2 separate regions of the Homo sapiens genome follow, and region 2 is linked to region 1. Evidence: fine-mapped expression QTL. Tissue or cell type: whole blood. Region 1 holds a variant in brackets; the other region holds the start of a gene. All regions are shown on one strand. Distances are between the middles of the regions.

Region 1 (8,101 bases):
CTCACTGAGCCCCTCTCACTCTCCGTCCCCTCCTTCCTCTTCCCCCTCCTCCTCCCCGGGCAGGTCCTAGAGCTCCTGAAGGTGGCCTGGAAGAGGCGGCTCATCTTCACAGTGGGCACGTCCAGCACCACGGGTGAGACGGACACCGTGGTATGGAACGAGATCCACCACAAGACAGAGATGGACCGCAACATTACGGGCCACGGCTATCCCGACCCCAACTACCTGCAGAACGTGCTGGCTGAGCTGGCTGCCCAGGGGGTGACCGAGGACTGCCTGGAGCAGCAGTGACCTCGCACCCCAGCACGCCCGCCTCTGGTGGCCACCCCGCTGCCCCATGGCTGGCTGGGTGGCCAGGCAGGAAGTGCCCAGCCCGAGAGGCTGGGAGGTTTGTTGAGGGTGTGGGGTGTGCCCCACCTGAAGCCGGGGCTCCCCCTGCCTGCCTCTCTCTCCTCCTCCCCTCTGGGAATTGGGCAGCCCTGGGCAGTTGTACTCATGGGGGCTTAGGATGCAGCTACCTCAGTGCGCAGGGCCCGTCTGTCCTCTGGGGGCTGCTTCGGGCCCGCGGTGCTCGGGGCCTGGTGTGGGGCGAGTAGAGACTTCCCCAGCCTGGACGGGCGTGGGTTCTGGGTCAGCTTCTTTTACCTCAATTTTGTTTGCAATAAATGCTCTATAGCCAAAGCCAGCAGGTCCTGAGTGTGTGCATGCATGCGTGTGTGCGCACTTGTGTGTGTGTGTGCCCCCCCCCACTTCCTGCATCAGAGCAAGAGGGGGTTCCATGGGCTCATCGGCTCCCATTTGATAACTGAAGAACAGGCCACAGCCAGGCATGGAGGAGCCCACGGTACTGGGCTGTGCGGCCTCCACATGCCCTACACTGATCTCCCTGCCATGCCAGAGGCTGTCACCCCAGAGCACCAGCTGTCACCTTTGTGGCCCTGGGGTTGTGGTTCACAAAATGCCATTCACTTAGGATTGGAGCTGCTGTCTCTGTTTTACTGATGTGGAAACAGGTTCAAAGGTGCAATGACTTGAACCAGGCATGGTGACGCATGCCTGTTATCCCAGCTGCTCAGAAGGTCGAGACAGGAGGCTCACTGTAGTCCAGACATTTGAGACCAGCCTGAGCAAAATTGCAAGACCTCATCTCTAAAAAAAAAATTAGGCCAGGTGCAGTGGCTCACGCCTCTAATCCTAGCACTTTTGGGAGGCTGAGACAGGTGGATCACCTGAGGTCAGGAATTTGAGACCAGCTTGGCCAACATGGCAAAACATCGTCTCTACTGAAAATACGAAAATTAGCCAGGCGTGGTGGCATGCAGCTGTAATCCCAGCTACTCAGAAGGCTGAGGCAGGAGAATCATTCGAACCTGGGAGGTGGAGGTTGCAGTGAGCCAAGGTCGTGCCACTGCACTCCAGCCTGAGCCACAGAGCGAGATTCCGTCTCAAAAAAATAAATAAATAAGCCAGGCATGGTGGCACCTGTCTGTAGTCCCAGCGGTCGGGAGGCTGAGGCGGGAGGATCGCTTGAGCCCAGGAGCTCAAGGCTGCAGTGAGCTATGATTGCACCACTGCACTCCAGCCTGGGCAACAGAGCAAGATCCCATCTGTAAAATCATAATAAAAAGAGACAGATTGAATGCTTGGCTAGGTAGGTGGAATCCAGGCCAGGGTTGATCTGACACCATTCTCAAAGTTCTAATTCTTCCTCCTCTTGGAAGGAGGATCAGATATCCCCAGTCAAGATCTTGCTGCTTGTCCGGGAGGAGTAGTTTGGGCCTGGGACCAGAGGGGGACGGTAGGGCCACCTCATTCATGGCTGTGGAAAGCAGAGGCACTTTGGCCTTGGTGAGCCCCTTTCTCTGTTAAACCTATTTTACAACATGTTGGTATAAAGATGAATATATTAATGTATACTAGAGGATTTTCTCTCACCTAAAGGTTCATTTTTTTCCCTTCTGATTTTAAAAGAAATTAAAAATGTATGTCAGCTCTTATAGTGTGGGCCCAGGGCACTGTGCCTAATGGTAAGTTGGTCCAGGGTAAAAAGGGTAGTGAGGTCTCTCTAGAAGACCCCAGTGTTGGCCGGGTACAGTGGCTCAGGCCTGTCATCCCAGCACTTTGGGAGGCTGAGGCGGGAGGATCACAAGGTCAGGAGTTCGAGACCAGCCTGGCCAACGTGGTGAAACCCCCTCTACTAAAAATACAAAAATTAGCTGGGCATGGTGGTGTGCACCTACAATTCCAGCTAACTTGGGAGGCTGAGGCAGGAGAATTGCTTGAACCCGGAAGGCAGAGGTTGCAGTGAGCCGAGATCACGCCACTGTACTCCAGCCTGGCGACAGAGCAAGACTCCGTCTCAAAAAATATATATAAAAACAAAACCATGAGATGCCACACTACACCCATTACGATGGCTATACTAAAACAAAAAGCAGTGTTGGAGAGGATGTCGAGAAATGGGACCCTCATCCACTGCTACTGGGAATGTAAAATGCAGCCACTTTGGCAAACAGAACCTCAGAAAGCAGCATTAGCATATGACCACAGTTCCACTCCTAGGTACATTCTCAAGAGAATTGAAAATGTGCCCACAGAAGCCTGCGCACGGATGCTCATGGCAGCATTATTTACAGTAGCCCCACAGTGGAAAAAAACAAATTCTGCATCCACTGATGAATGAAAGTGTGATACGTTCACAGGATGGAATATTACTCAACTGTGAAAAGGAATGAAGCAATCACAGTCGAGGAGGAACCTTGAAAAAGTAACAAAAGCCAGACACAAAAGGTCACATGTTGTGTGACTGCATCCTATGAAATGTCCATTACGGGCAAAACCATGGAAACAAGAAGTAGCTTAGTCGTCACTGGGGACGGGAGAATGGAGAGTTACCGTTTAATGGGTGTAGTGTTTCGTTTTGGGGAAGTAAGAAGGTTCTGGAATTGGTGATGGTTGCACAACCTTGTTGATATACTAAAAGCTGTTGGGCGCTGTGGCTCATGCCTGTAATCTGGGCACTTTGGGAGGCTGAGGCAGGAGGATCCCTTGAGCCAGGAGTTCAAGACCAGGCTGGGCAACACAGTGAGACCCTGTCTCTACAAGAAATATATTTTTATTATATTTTTTTTGAGACAGAGTCTCACTCTGTCATCCACGCTGTAGTGCGGTGGTGCGATCTCAGCTCACTGCAACCTCCGCCTCCCGGGTTCAAGTCATTCTCCTGCCTCAGCCTCCCGAGTACTTGGGATTACAAGCACGTTCCACCACACCCGGCTAATTTTTGTAATTTTAGTCGAGACAGGGTTTCACCATGTTCGCCAGGCTGGTCTCGAACTCATGACCTCAAGTGACCTGCCCACCTCGGCCTCCCAAAGTGCTGGGATTACCGCCGTAAGTCACTACACCCAGCCTCAAAAACTATATTTTTAAAAATTAGCAGCTGGGCGCAGTGGCTCATGCCTGTAATCCCAGCACTTTGGGAGGCCAAGGCAGGTAGATCGCGAGGTCAGGCGTTCGAGACCAGCCTGGCCAAGTTGGTGAAACCTCATCTCTACTAAAAATACAAAAATTAGCTGGGCATGGTGGTAGGTGCCTGTAGTCCCAGCTACTAGGGAGGCTGAGGCAGAAGAATTGCTTGAACCCAGGAGGTGGAGGTTGCAGTGAGCAGAGATCAC[G/A]CCATTGCACTCCAGCCTGGGCGACAGGGTGAGACTCCATGTCTCAAAAAAAAAAAAAAATAGCCAGGCACGGTGGCTCACGCCTGTAATCCCAATACTTTAGGAGGCCAAGGCAGGAGATTTGCTTGATCCTCCCAGGAGTTAGAGATCAGCCTGGGCAACATAGCAAGATCCTGTTTCTATAAAAAATACATTTTTAAAAATTGGCCAGCCGGGCGCAGTGGCTCACACCTGCAATCCCAGCGCTTTGGGAGGCTGAGGTGGGTGGATCACCTGAGGTCAGGAGTTCGAGACCAGCCTCACCAACGTGGAGAAACCCTATCTCTACTAAAAATACAAAATTAGACAGGTGTGGTGGCACATGCCTGTAATCCCAGCTACTCAGGAGGCTGAGGCAGGAGAATCACTTGAACCCAGGAGGTGGAGGTTGCGGTGAGCCAAGATCGAGCCATTGTACTCCAGCCTGGGCAACAAGAGTGAAAACTCCGTTTCAAAAAAAACAAAAAAAAAATTGGCGGGGGTGCCAGGCACGGTGGCACATGCCTGTAATCCCAGCACTTTGGGAGGCCAAGGCGGGTGGATCACTTGAGATCAGGAATTTGAGACCAGCCAAGCCAACATGGTGAAACCCCGTCCCTACTAAAAATACAAAAATTAGCTGGCCGTGGGGCACATGCCTGTAATCCCAGCTACTTGGGAGGCTGAGGCAGGAGAATCGCTTGAACCCAGGAGGCGGAGGTTGCAGTGAGCCCAGATCACGCCACTGCACTCCAGCCTGGACAACAAAGGAGACTCCATCTTAAAAAAAAATTAATTAAATAAATTTTAAAAATTAGCCGGAGCATGGTGTTGTGTGCCTGTGGTTCCAGCTACTGGGAAGGCTGAGGTGGGAGGATTAACTGAACCTGGGAGTTTGAGGCTCCAGTTAGCTGTGAACTGACCTCCCTGGGTGACATATATATATTTAAGCCACTGAGCTGTGAAGGTTGTGAAGGTATGTGAGTTATGTCTTGAAAAATACACACATAGTGAGCGCCAAATCCCGGGAGTAGTGTTTAAGTGGCGGGCTTGTCAGCTGTCAAGGGCTCTGCAGCCCTTTCTCTGAATCCAAGTTCTTCTTCCTGTGGACAGGGAACCCAGGCTGCGAACTGGGAGGATGTGGCCTCGTGGGGGGCAGGGCCAGCGTGCTGTGATGGGGATGGGGCTGGGCAGGTTGGGGCTGCCTGCTACTCCCCACTCCTGACTCTGGGTGGGGACAGAAGGCAGAGGGAGGCTCCTGGCACCTGGGGCACAGGAATCTCAGGCATGTGGTCCTGAGCCTGTTTCCAAAAGCCAGACCCTCCTCCCCAGGGCGGAGAGACTGGGAGGGGCCCCAATCCAGGCTCCGGGATGGCCTGGCTGGCATCTGGGGTTCCAGTGGCCCCTCTCCCTTGGCCCTGGCAGTGGGGCTGGATACTGGCCTGCCTCCCACCAGAGTCCCCCCAGCTCCTCCCTGCTGTGGGCTGGCCTGGGAGGAAGGGGGTGGGGTGCACTTACATTTGCAGGTCTTTCCAGCCCCTGGGGCAGCCTGATTAACCAGCTTCTCCAGGGCCAAGCTGTTGGGGGTGAGGTGCAGCCCGAAGCAGCCAGACCAGCCCCTGAGCCTCCCGGGTGCTGGCAGCTGTCATGGGGCTACCCTGGGGGCAGCCTCACCTAGGGCTGCAGATGCTCCTCCTGGCGTTGAACTGTCTCCGGCCCAGCCTGAGCCTGGGTGAGTGGGGGTCCTGGATGGACGCGTCCAGCCAGACCCAAGGGGCTGGGGGCCCTGCTGGAGTGATTGGACCCTGGGCGCCCGCCCCCCTCCGATTGGGAGAGGCAGCCCCAGGGACCCCCACGCCCGTCTCCGTGGCTCACCTTTTGTCCCCCGTGGCCACAGAGCTGGTGCCCTACACACCACAGATAACAGCTTGGGACCTGGAAGGGAAGGTCACAGCCACCACCTTCTCCCTGGAGCAGCCGCGCTGTGTCTTCGATGGGCTTGCCAGCGCCAGCGATACCGTCTGGCTCGTGGTGGCCTTCAGCAATGGTACGGGGACTGCTGTGGGGCCTGGGTGAGGGTGACGGCTGAGGAGAGTGGTGGGCCCTAGGAGCCCCTCACCAGCAAGCGCCTTCAATGATTGAGCCCCTGTGGGGGCCTTTGGGAGAGTAGGTGTGGATGAATTGGGCTTTATCTAAAGGGGTAATATGTGTATTGAAAAATACACACGTAGTGAACACCAAATCCCGGGAGTAGTGCTAGTGGTGGGTTTGTCAGCTGTCAAGGGCTCTGCAACCCTTTCTCTGAATCCAAGTAGTTCTTCCTTTGGACAGGGAACCGAGGCTGCGACCTGGGAGGATGTGGCCTCCTGTGGGGCAGGGCCGGTGCACTGCAATGGGGCTGGGGCTGGGGCTGGGCAGGTTGGGACTGCCCGCTGCTCCCCACTCCTGGCTCTGGGTGGGGACAAAAGGCCAGAGGGAAGCTCCCCTTCAGGGGTAACAAAGTCGACTGGGTCTGGACTATCTCTGGGGGCCCTGAGGGAGGAGGTGGCATGGGGGGTCAGGGCTGGAGACTGGGCGAACACAGAACCCCCACTCATAAGGACAAAGCTGCTTTCTCCCCTCCCACCTCCATCTGTTCTCTCCTCCTGCAGCCTCCAGGGGCTTCCAGAACCCGGAGACACTGGCTGACATTCCGGCCTCCCCACAGCTGCTGACCGATGGCCACTACATGACGCTGCCCCTGTCTCCGGACCAGCTGCCCTGTGGCGACCCCATGGCGGGCAGCGGAGGCGCCCCCGTGCTGCGGGTGGGCCATGACCACGGCTGCCACCAGCAGCCCTTCTGCAACGCGCCCCTCCCTGGCCCTGGACCCTATCGGTGGGTGGTCCCCACCGGAGCCCTGGGACTGGGGCTGTGCTTGGGGCGGACGCATTGCTGGGACCAGGGATGCTCTCTCTAGCATCTTTCCAGGGAGGGGTCCCCGGCCCCGGTCCTCCCCTTTGCAAGCCCGGGCTCCTTCCACTGTAGAGTCAGCAACAGTGCTCACCCCCGCTGGGGCCGGGCAAGGCCCAGGAGGAGCAGGTGGGCACCTTGGGGAGGCGGGATCTTAGTCAAGGTGGGAGGGGGCAGCTTCCCCAAAGTCTAGGCCCCTGTCCCCCACCACGGGCAGATCTGGCAGGAAACTCGGGGGCCGAGTTCAGACCCAGTCTCGTCGGTATTAGGCAGGGAGCAGGAGAGGTGGCTCCTACCCGCTCTTACAGATGAGGAAACTGAGGCACAGGAGGTCAAGTGGCCTGCCAACATCGGGGTGGAGCCGGGATGGGGAAGCAGGCAGTGTGTCCAGGTCAGGACTGTCCGGACACAGGAGGAGGCGGGGTGACCTCAGGAAGACCAGGCCCAGGGGAAGCCGGGAAGGCAGGGCGTGGTGAGGCTGGAACAGCACCCCGCTCCGCCCAGCCCCCTTCTGCCCTCTCACCCACTCTCCAGGTCCACCCTCTGCCCTCCCCGCTGCCTCACCCTGGCTCAGCCTTCCAGCTCCATGCCCCGCCCCATCCCCCGCAGCCACTCTTTTCAATGCCAACCTGCCAGGTCCTTCCCCGCTTCCCAGGCCTTGCAGAGCTCCCAGCCCTGCAAAGAGACAAACCGAGGCCCTCTGCGGGGCTCCTGGTGCCCTGGGTCCTCAGGCTGCTGGTGATTGAGCCCCCTGCCCCCGGCTACTGCTGCCCCTCTGGGAGGCCTGTGACCCCTGCCCCATGTGCCCTGCTAAGCCACCTTCACCTGCTCTTTTGGCTTGTGACATTTAGGAACCAGGGCCCCTAAACCAGCATCCCCGGCCCAGGTCTGGTGTCTGGAGAGCAATTGCTCGGGGGGATGAGGGGTGGTGGCACAGGCCAAGTGGCTGGAGACATCTCAGGGGATTCTCAGAGCAGGGCCAGGCCATGGGCTGCTGCTCTTGACGGGCACCCCCACTCCACATCCATGGGAGGGCCCCAGAGGAGCTGCCTGGGGCTTGGCCCTGCCCAGGGTGGTCCCAGCCTCTGAAGCTCTCCCCTCCTCCCCCACCACCTCCCATCCCCAGGGTGAAGTTCCTCCTGATGGACACCAGGGGCTCACCCAGGGCTGAGACCAAGTGGTCAGACCCCATCACTCTCCACCAAGGTAGCGCTGGGCAGGAGGGGCGCTGCCCCCAGTGGACTCACGATCTCTCTGGGCCGCCTCTGCTGAGCTGGCCACACCCCTGCTCCCACAGGGCTGGGGGCCTGGAGGCCATGTCCAAGTCGGGCCCAGCCCCCAACAGAACCTCATGCTGGGGGAGTGGGGCACCCAGCCAGCCCCCTCGGCAGGGGCACCATCTCGGCCCATCCGCAAGCGTTTGCCACATTGTGGGCACAGACAGCCTCCCCCCT
Region 2 (8,101 bases), 47 kb before region 1:
TAAATAAAATCTTTAACAATTCTTCAGCTTATCCGCCTACCTTCTGGGGCTTCTTGGGTCTCTTCCCAGAAACTTTCTTCGTCTGTAAGCCCGTTTATTGTATGCAATTGTTTAAAAAACACAAATGGGTGCATATTCTCATATTCTCTACCCTCTATTTTGAACGTTCCTTTTTTTTCTTTTTTTCAGACCGAGTCTCAGTCTGTCACCCAGGCTAGTGCAATGGTGCAATTTTGGCTCACTACACCCTCTGCCTCCCAGATTCAAGCGATTCTCCTGCCTCAGCCTCCCGAGTAGGTGGATTACAGGTGTGCACCGCTGCACCCAGCTAATTTTTGTATTTTTAGTAGAGACGAGGTTTCACCATGTTGGCCAGACTGGTCTTGAACTCCTGATCTCAGGTGATCCACCTGCCTCCGCCTCCCAAAGTGCTGGGATTATAGGCATGAGCCGCCTTGCCTGGCTCAAAGTTCCTTTTTGGTTTAACAATAGATCTAGGCCACTGTGAGTCTTCCTCATTCCTTCTAGGGCTACCTAGTGTTCCGGGGTTATTTAACCAGCCCCCTCCTACCAGGCAGTTCTTTTGTCTCTGGCCCTTTGCTACGTATATTAGTTTAAAGTTCACTTTGCAAGTGGCCAAGCCTGTTTCCCTCATTTCCAGGTTCCCAGGGGGCAGACATCCTGCTGCAATTTCAGAAGTCAGCACACTCTTCTCTCTCCTGTCTAAAATACAAAAGTCCATGCCCCCCACTCTCCCTCTTGATACTGTCCTATTTTACTTCTTTTCACAACCAGAACTCTTTATTTTTCCCAAATAAAAATAGTCCGTCTTTTCAGATTTTAAAAATGGAACTCTGGCCGGATGCGGTGGCCCTCACCTGTAATCCCAGCACTTTGGAAGGCTGCAGTGGGCAGATTACCTGAGGTCAGGAGTTTGAGATCAGCCTGGCTGACATGGTGAAACTCTGTCTCTACTAAAAATACAAAAATTAGCCCGGATGCGGTGGCTCACATCTGTAATCCCAGTACTTTGGGAGACCGAGGTGGGCAGATCACGAGGTCAGGAGTTCAAGACCAGCCTGGCCAACATGGTGAAACCCTGTCTCTACTAAAATACAAAAATTAGCTGGGCATGGTGGCATCCGCCTGTAATCACAGTTACTCGGCAGGCTGAGGAAGAATTGCTTGAACCTGGGAGGCGGAGTTTGCAGTGAGCTGAGATTGTGCCATTGCACTCCAGCCTGGGCGACAGAGCAAGACTCCGTCTCAAAAATATATATATATACAAAAATTAGCTGAGTGTGGTGGTGCATGCCTGTAATCCCAGCTACTCGGGAGGTGAGGCAGGAGAATCACTTGAACCTGGGAGGCGGAGGTTGCAGTGAGCCGAGATTGTGCCATTTCACTCCAGCCTGGACAACAAGAGCAAAACTCGTCTCAAAAAAAAAAAAAAGGAAAATAAAAATCCCTGATAAAGGATCAATGACCTTAGGATAATGTCATTCCAGGTAAGTATCTTTAACTGGGTACTTGGTCCTCCAAGATTCAGAGGACCTTGATCCCCCTGAAACTGTATACATAATATTCAACATACATAGTATGTGCACACATGTGCAAACACTCACATTATCTAAAATTCATCATAATCTTACCCCGGCTTCTCCCCACACTCCTCAGATCCTGCTATAGCCTAGTGCATTTTCTCCTTCCTCACTCCCTTCCCTCCATGTGTCCTCTGCCCTGGCCACCAGGAACTTTGTGCTGCCTCCGGAGTGCATGAGGCACTTTCACATCTCTCTTGCTTTACAAGAGCTTCCCTATGCTCCAACTGGCAAATTTCTCTATGGACTGAAAAACCCACATAGCCTTTATCTGTCTTGTGATGTCTTCTCCCCACCCTCAAGTTAGGCATACCCTTCTATGCCCTCCTTTATCCAAACATTTTCCCCACTATATCGTAATTGTGTGTTTAAGTGCCGGACTTTCCAACTAGATACAAAGCTTTCCCAGGAAAGAAATCCTTTTCTTTTCTTCTTTCTTTCTTTTCTTTTCTTTTCTTTCTTTTTTTTTTTTTTTTTTTTGAGACAGATTCCCACTGTGTCGTCCAGGCTGGAGTGCAGTGGCACAATCTTGGCTCAGTGCAACCTCCACCTCCAGGGTTCAAGTGATTCTCTTGCCTCAGTCTTCCAAGTAGCTGGGATTACAGGCACGCGCCACCACACCCAGTTAATTATTATTATTATTATTATTTTTTTTTTTTTTTGAGACGGAGTCTCGCTCTGTCACCCAGGCTGGAGTGCAGTGGCACAATCTCGGCTCACTGCAAGCTCCGCCTCCCGGGTTCACGCCATTCTCCTGCCTCAGCCTCCCGAGTAGCTGGGACTACAGGAGCCCACCACTACGCCCGCTTAATTTTTTTTTTTTTTTGTATTTTTAGTAGAGACGGGGTTTCACCGTGGTCTCGATCTCCTGCCCTCGTGATCCGCCCGCCTCGGCCTCCCAGAGTGCTGGGATTACAGGCGTGAGCCACTGCGCCCGGCCTCCACACCCAGTTAATTTTTGTATTTTTAGTAGAGACGGGGTTTCACCATGTTGGCCAGGATGGTCTCAATCTCTTGACCTTGTGATCTGGCTGCCTCGGCCTCCCAAAGTGCTGGGATTACAGGCGTGAGCCACCGCTCCCGGCGAGAAACCTTTTCTTTTTCTTTTTTCTTCTTCTTCGTCTTTTTTTTTTTTTCTTTTGAGAGGGATTCCTGTTCCGTCGCCCAGGCTGGAGTGCAATGGCGCGATCTTGGCTCACTACAGCCTCTGCCTCCCGGGTTCAAGCGATTCTCTTGCCTCAGCCTCCCGAGTAGCTGGGATTACAGGCACGAGCCACCACGCCCGGCTAGTTTTTTTTGGTATTTTTAGTAGAGACGGGGTTTCGCCATGATGGCCAGGCTGGTCTGGAACTCCCGACCTCAGGTGATCCGCCCACCTCTGCCTCTCAAAGTGCAGGGATTACAGGCATGAGCCACTGCGCCCAGCCAAGAAACCATTTCTGATTCACCTATTCACTCCCGCACTCCCACTACACAGTAGCTAAATAAATAAATAAATATTAAAAATAAATAGGAAAGAAAGAGAGAAAAAAAGAAAAGAAAAAGACAAAAATTTAAATTTAAAAAGGTTGTGCTCGATGGCTCACACTTGCAACCCCAGTGCTTTGGGAGGCTGAATGAAGCAAGAGGATCGCTTGAGGCCAGGAGTTTGAGATCGGCCTGAGCAACGTTGCAGCATTGCAAAACCCCCATCTGTACAAAAAAGAAAAATAAAATTAATTTTAAAAACAAAAAAAGAGAAACAGTAGCACATGTATGTACTGGCACCATGTATGTACTAGTAAAAACTAGTTAAAATTAAGTCAGTAATTAATGAAGGAATAAGTCAATGAGTGAGCAGGCGAAGGAAGAAAACATAGACCGGAGCAGGTGCGCCTTGGGTTGAGCCCTTCCCCGCTGAGCCCCGCCTTCTGCCCGCCCCTGGGCCCTACCGGGACTACATTTCCCAGAAGGCCGCACGCCCCGGGCATGCGCAGCGGCTCGCTCGGAAGCTGCGACGCCGAGTTTCACTCTGGCTGCCTTCTCCTGAGAGTCGGAGCCACAGCCAGAGCCCTGCCCAGGCCGAGCCGGAGCTGCAGCCCGAGCGCGGTGGTGCCCTCAGCCCCGTCCTCTTGTCCTCCTCAGCCTCGGTGAGAGGGCGGGAAGGCCACCTGCGCGTCGCTAGGGCTGCGGTCCCAGGGGCGCGGGGTGGCGCGGGGAGCCGGAGCCTAGCTGGGACCGGAAGGGGGCGGGCGTGGGTGTGAGGGGGACCGACGGCCGGGGCGGCGGGGACACCCGGGGGTCCCGGGAGATCGGGGGTGTCGGGGGGATCGGTCTCCGGGATCAAGGTCCTGAGGGCGAGAGTTGGGGGACTTGGGAGGCGCCGGCAGCTTTGGACGGGACAGGGTGCCGGGTGCGAAAGGGGACGTTCGGATGAAGGCTGAGGGGCTCGCAGGCGGAGGGGCGCGGTTCCGGGTCGCTCGGAAGGCGCGCACCCCTTCCCAAAGTACCCAGAGGAGGGGGTGACGAGATTGCCACCGGCTCCCTGACGAGGGGTTGGTCCTGCTGGGGTCTACCCCCAGGTGAAGGGACTCACTGGGCCGGGGGTTGTACTTTGGAGGAGTTTGCTTCCTAACTCTGCTTCCCTGCTTTCCTGTGGGGGGTCTTCCCAGGAGTTCCTGGGGCCCTGGGTCACTTTTTGGGGTGCGTAAGGGGTGCCGAAAAAGATTTAGAACTCGGTTCCCTTTTCTGGAGCTGCGCTTTCATCGCGACTGTCTCAGCCAGCTGCCCTCCTCCTCCAAGCTGGCTCCACTTCTCTAAGCGCCAACAGCGATGGAAATAAATAGCATGTGTACAGACGCCTGGACCCTTGAGAAACTCAGAATATTTCTGCATGCCTTCCTAGCTCCTCTAGCGCTCTAGAAGGTAGACTTTCTGGTAGCCACCATCCGGGCTTAAGCCATCCGGATAGCAAGCCCTCTGATTCGGTTGCTCTGTGACCTTAAATATTTACCCTCTCTGGTGTGTTGATTTCCTGGATGCTTAGCTGCCAGACTGGCTTATGAAGTCCTTTTAGAGTTTTCTGTAAAAGGGCTCAGGCCAGGCACGGTGGCTCATGCCTGTAATCCCAGCCCTTTGGGAGGCCGAGGTGGAAGGATCATTTGAGTCCAGGAATTTGAGACAAGCCTGGGAAACGAAGAGGATTCCTGAGATCACTGTCTCTATAAAAAATCAGATGGGCGTGTTGGTGGGTGCCTGTAGTCCCAGCTACTTGGGAGGCTGAGGCAGGAGGATCGCTTGAGCCCAGGAGTTGGAGGCTGCAGTGAGCTGTGATCACACCACTGCACTGCAGCATGGGCGACAGAGGGAGACCCCGTCTCAAAAAACAAAAAACAAACAAACTAAAAAAACGAACTTTTTTTTTTTTTTAAGAAAAGGGCTCAGAGCCAGGCGTGGTGACTCGAGCCTATAATCCCAGCTACTCGGGAAGCTGAGGCAGGAGAGTAGCTTGAACCTGGGAGGCGGAGGCTGCAGTGAGCCGAGATCACGCCACTGCACTCCAGCTTGGGTGACAGAGCAAGACTCCGTCTCCAAAAACTAATAATAATAAAAAATTTTAAAAAGAGCTCAGGGTTTTTTTGTTTGTTTGCTTTTTGTTGTTTCTTCAACCATCTCCTTGATTGTTAAGTGGGTGGAGGAAGACTGTTGTACCTCCTGCTCCACCCAGGCTATTGGAAAATAAATCTGGTGATTTTCAGTCCCCAGGCACAGCACACGGATCCAACATCTGTACCTTTGTTTTTACTAACTGCTGTTTCTTAATTTAAAACCTGATCATCTTCTTCCTCGTTGGCAAAGGTGCCTTGGAATTTGTGTCGCTGAGTCAGCAAGCCTTTCAGATTTGCCCGGTTTTTGTTGTTTGTGGTTTGTATCAAGATGGGAACTCAAACAAGTCATTCCTCCTAAGGAGCTGGTGTCTTCATCCAGAAGGGACAGTTTGTGCCAGCTCTCCAGAGAGAAAAGGTGAGAGCCATGGGGACTTGACCTTGCTGCCTTCTCTATCTGGTGCAGAGAAGGTGGGGATTGGGGAGGGTGGAATTTGAGGTCTGCAGGATAAACGTGTGCCCTGGGAGTTGACTGTTGATTGCCACCTGTCTCAAATAAATTGCAGTGGCGTCTTGCCACTGCTTCTCCTGTTTAACTAACTAGTCTTAGAAGATGCTTTCCACTTTAAGACATGCTTTATGGGATAGAAGACACAAGTCACGATTTCTGCATTTGAAGTGGCAGTTTTCATTTCTTTTGTTGCATAAACCCTTACTGGGTGCCAGATAAGATCTCTGTCTTTTGGGAGTGCATTGTTTGGTGGAAAAGACAAAGCAGAGTCAGTGACAAGGTGTTGTCAGTGTGATATATACTGAGCTGGGAGAAATCACAAGGCTCTCCTACCCACATCCAGAAAGGGGACGGTTAGAGGGAAGGTCAGGAAGGCTCCTGGAAGGTGGTAGTTGAGGGGGGTTGTGAAGGAGGAGTAGGACTTAGAAAGTGGGGCACAGTCACCTGGGAGAGGAGTCAGCGTTTGCAAAGTCATGAAGCTACCGGGACACAGCTGGGCTACTGTAAGTAGCTTAGTATGTAATAGAGGAGGCTGGAAAAGCAGGCAGAGGGCTCTGAGCGAGGAGGGTTATGTGGGCCATGCCAAGACTCGGGAGTGGAAGGATTTTAGGAGATTTCTATGAGGGTCATTTTATTAATTATTTTTTTGAGTTGGGGTCTGCTTCTGCTGCCCAGGCTGGAGTGCAGTGGAGTGATCATAGTTCACCACAGCCTCAAATTCCTGGGCTCTGGGGTAGCTGAGGTGCCTACCACCATACCCGACTAATAATTTTATCTAGAGACAGTGCCGCTCTACGTTGTCCAGGCTGGTCTCTAACTCCTGGCCTCAAGGGATCCTCCCATCTCAGCCTCCCAAAGTGCTAGGATTACAGGCCTGAGCCACCGTGCCTGGCCTCGTGAGGGACATTTTAATGGAGCACACTGGAACATGTGGAATGGGTTTAGACTGGATTATTCGCTTTGTGGCGGTCTTCTTACATACATCATGCCAGCTTCTTCGTGGGGAGAGGCAGGTGAGTGGTTTTGCCCTCAGTTGCTTATAGTCTAGTTGAAGAGATAAAGTGAACATAGAGAACTGAAAAGGAACTTGCTAAGAGGGTGTTTTCTTTCATTCTTTTTGTTGTTGTTGTTTTGTTTTGTTTGTTTACTTTTTGAGACAGGGTCTTACTCTGTCACCCAGGCTGGAGAGCGGTGGTGCAATCTCAGCTCACTGCTCAACTTCACCTCCCAGGCTCAAGAGGTTCTTGTGCCTCAGCTTCCCGAGTAGCTGGACTTACAGGTGCACACCATCATGCCTGGCTGATTTAGAGGGTGTTTGCTTTCTGCTGGGCACATCCAGGCATCGTGGGAAGTGCTGTTTAAATTGGGCCATAAAAGGGTGGGTAAGGTGAGGACAGGGGACCAAGTGGGTGGGATTCAGGGTGAAGCAGAGTCATGGGGGTGGGGACAGACACGCTGATGCACATGGGAGTAGTGGATCCTCATTTACACTCTGGAAGGGAATTGTGGAGAGGGAGGTATAGATGAGGGGATGGAAGGGAAGGGCACCGGCAAATATTGTTGATAGCGAGGGAAGGGCGGTATTGTGATCGGCTTTGACTGTCAGCCTAAGGAATTTGAATTTCATTCTAGAGATCCAGGGGAGGTGTGTAAAAGACAAGATCAGAACGTTAGTTCAGGAAGCTTAATCTTTTCTGCCCCCCCATCTGAGATGTACAAGAGGGTTAGAAAGCAGAGTTGGAGAAGCTGTTTGGGAGGGAGCACTTATTTGTTTTTTTGTTTTGTTTTGTTTTTTTGAGATGGAGTCTCGCTCTGTTACCCAGGCTGGAGTGCAGTGGCGCCATCCTGGCTCACTGCAACCTCCACCTCCCGGGTTCAAGTGATTCTCCTGCCTCAGCTTCCCAAGTAGCTAGGACTACAAGCACCTGCCACCATGCCTGGCTAATTTTTGTATTTTTAGTAGAGACGGGGTTTCCCTCTGTTGGCCAGGCTGGTGTCGAACTCCTGACCTCAGGTGATGCACCCACCGAGGCCTCCCAAAGTGCTGGGATTACAGGCGTGAGCCACTGCGCCCGGCAGGGAGGGGGTAAAGTGAGAGGCATAAGGGTCCCGGCCAGGTGTTAGCAGGGGGCTTCAGAGGTGAGGAGAGAGCAGGGCAGGCAGCTGCTAGGCCTGGGGGAGCGGGCTGCGGAGGACTGAGAATCTGAGGTTTTTCTCTTGGCCGCCTGGGGGAAATCCAGGGGGAAAAGGAGAATGAGGAAGGAAGATGCGTTTGGCCTCAGACGTGTTGAAGGTATTAAGAGGCCAACAGGAAATGAGGCCATGGGCTAGAGAGAAGAGCCCTGATTCATTCCCCAAATGCCTCCCGAAATTCTGTGCGCCGAGGCTTGTGTTTGGCACTTGGA

What was found. PIP is the estimated chance that this variant, and not a neighbour inherited with it, causes the effect.
Region 2: it holds the start of DTX2, and the variant in region 1 is fine-mapped to the expression of DTX2 in whole blood (TOPMed, PIP above 0.99).

What each region holds. Positions count from the first base shown.
Region 1 is chr7:76,505,311-76,513,411 of GRCh38, forward strand. It overlaps DTX2 (deltex E3 ubiquitin ligase 2), which reads left to right. Exons shown (of 11, transcript NM_001102594.3): 11 at 64-681. The coding sequence ends at 291. UPK3B (uroplakin 3B) reads left to right here and starts at 5,242. Exons shown (of 6, transcript NM_001347684.2): 1 at 5,242-5,427; 2 at 5,593-5,742; 3 at 6,347-6,572; 4 at 7,774-7,853. The coding sequence starts at 5,343. It overlaps LOC124901675 (a long non-coding RNA gene), which reads right to left and starts at 5,423. Exons shown (of 2, transcript XR_007060388.1): 1 at 5,214-5,423; 2 at 2,871-4,798. RefSeq lists a silencer at 3,624-3,829 and enhancers at 4,707-5,279, 5,280-5,852, 6,606-7,257, 7,258-7,909, 7,910-8,101. The variant G/A (reference allele first, on the strand shown) is at 3,678.
Region 2 is chr7:76,458,107-76,466,207 of GRCh38, forward strand. DTX2 (deltex E3 ubiquitin ligase 2) reads left to right here and starts at 3,603. Exons shown (of 11, transcript NM_001102594.3): 1 at 3,603-3,730; 2 at 5,439-5,603.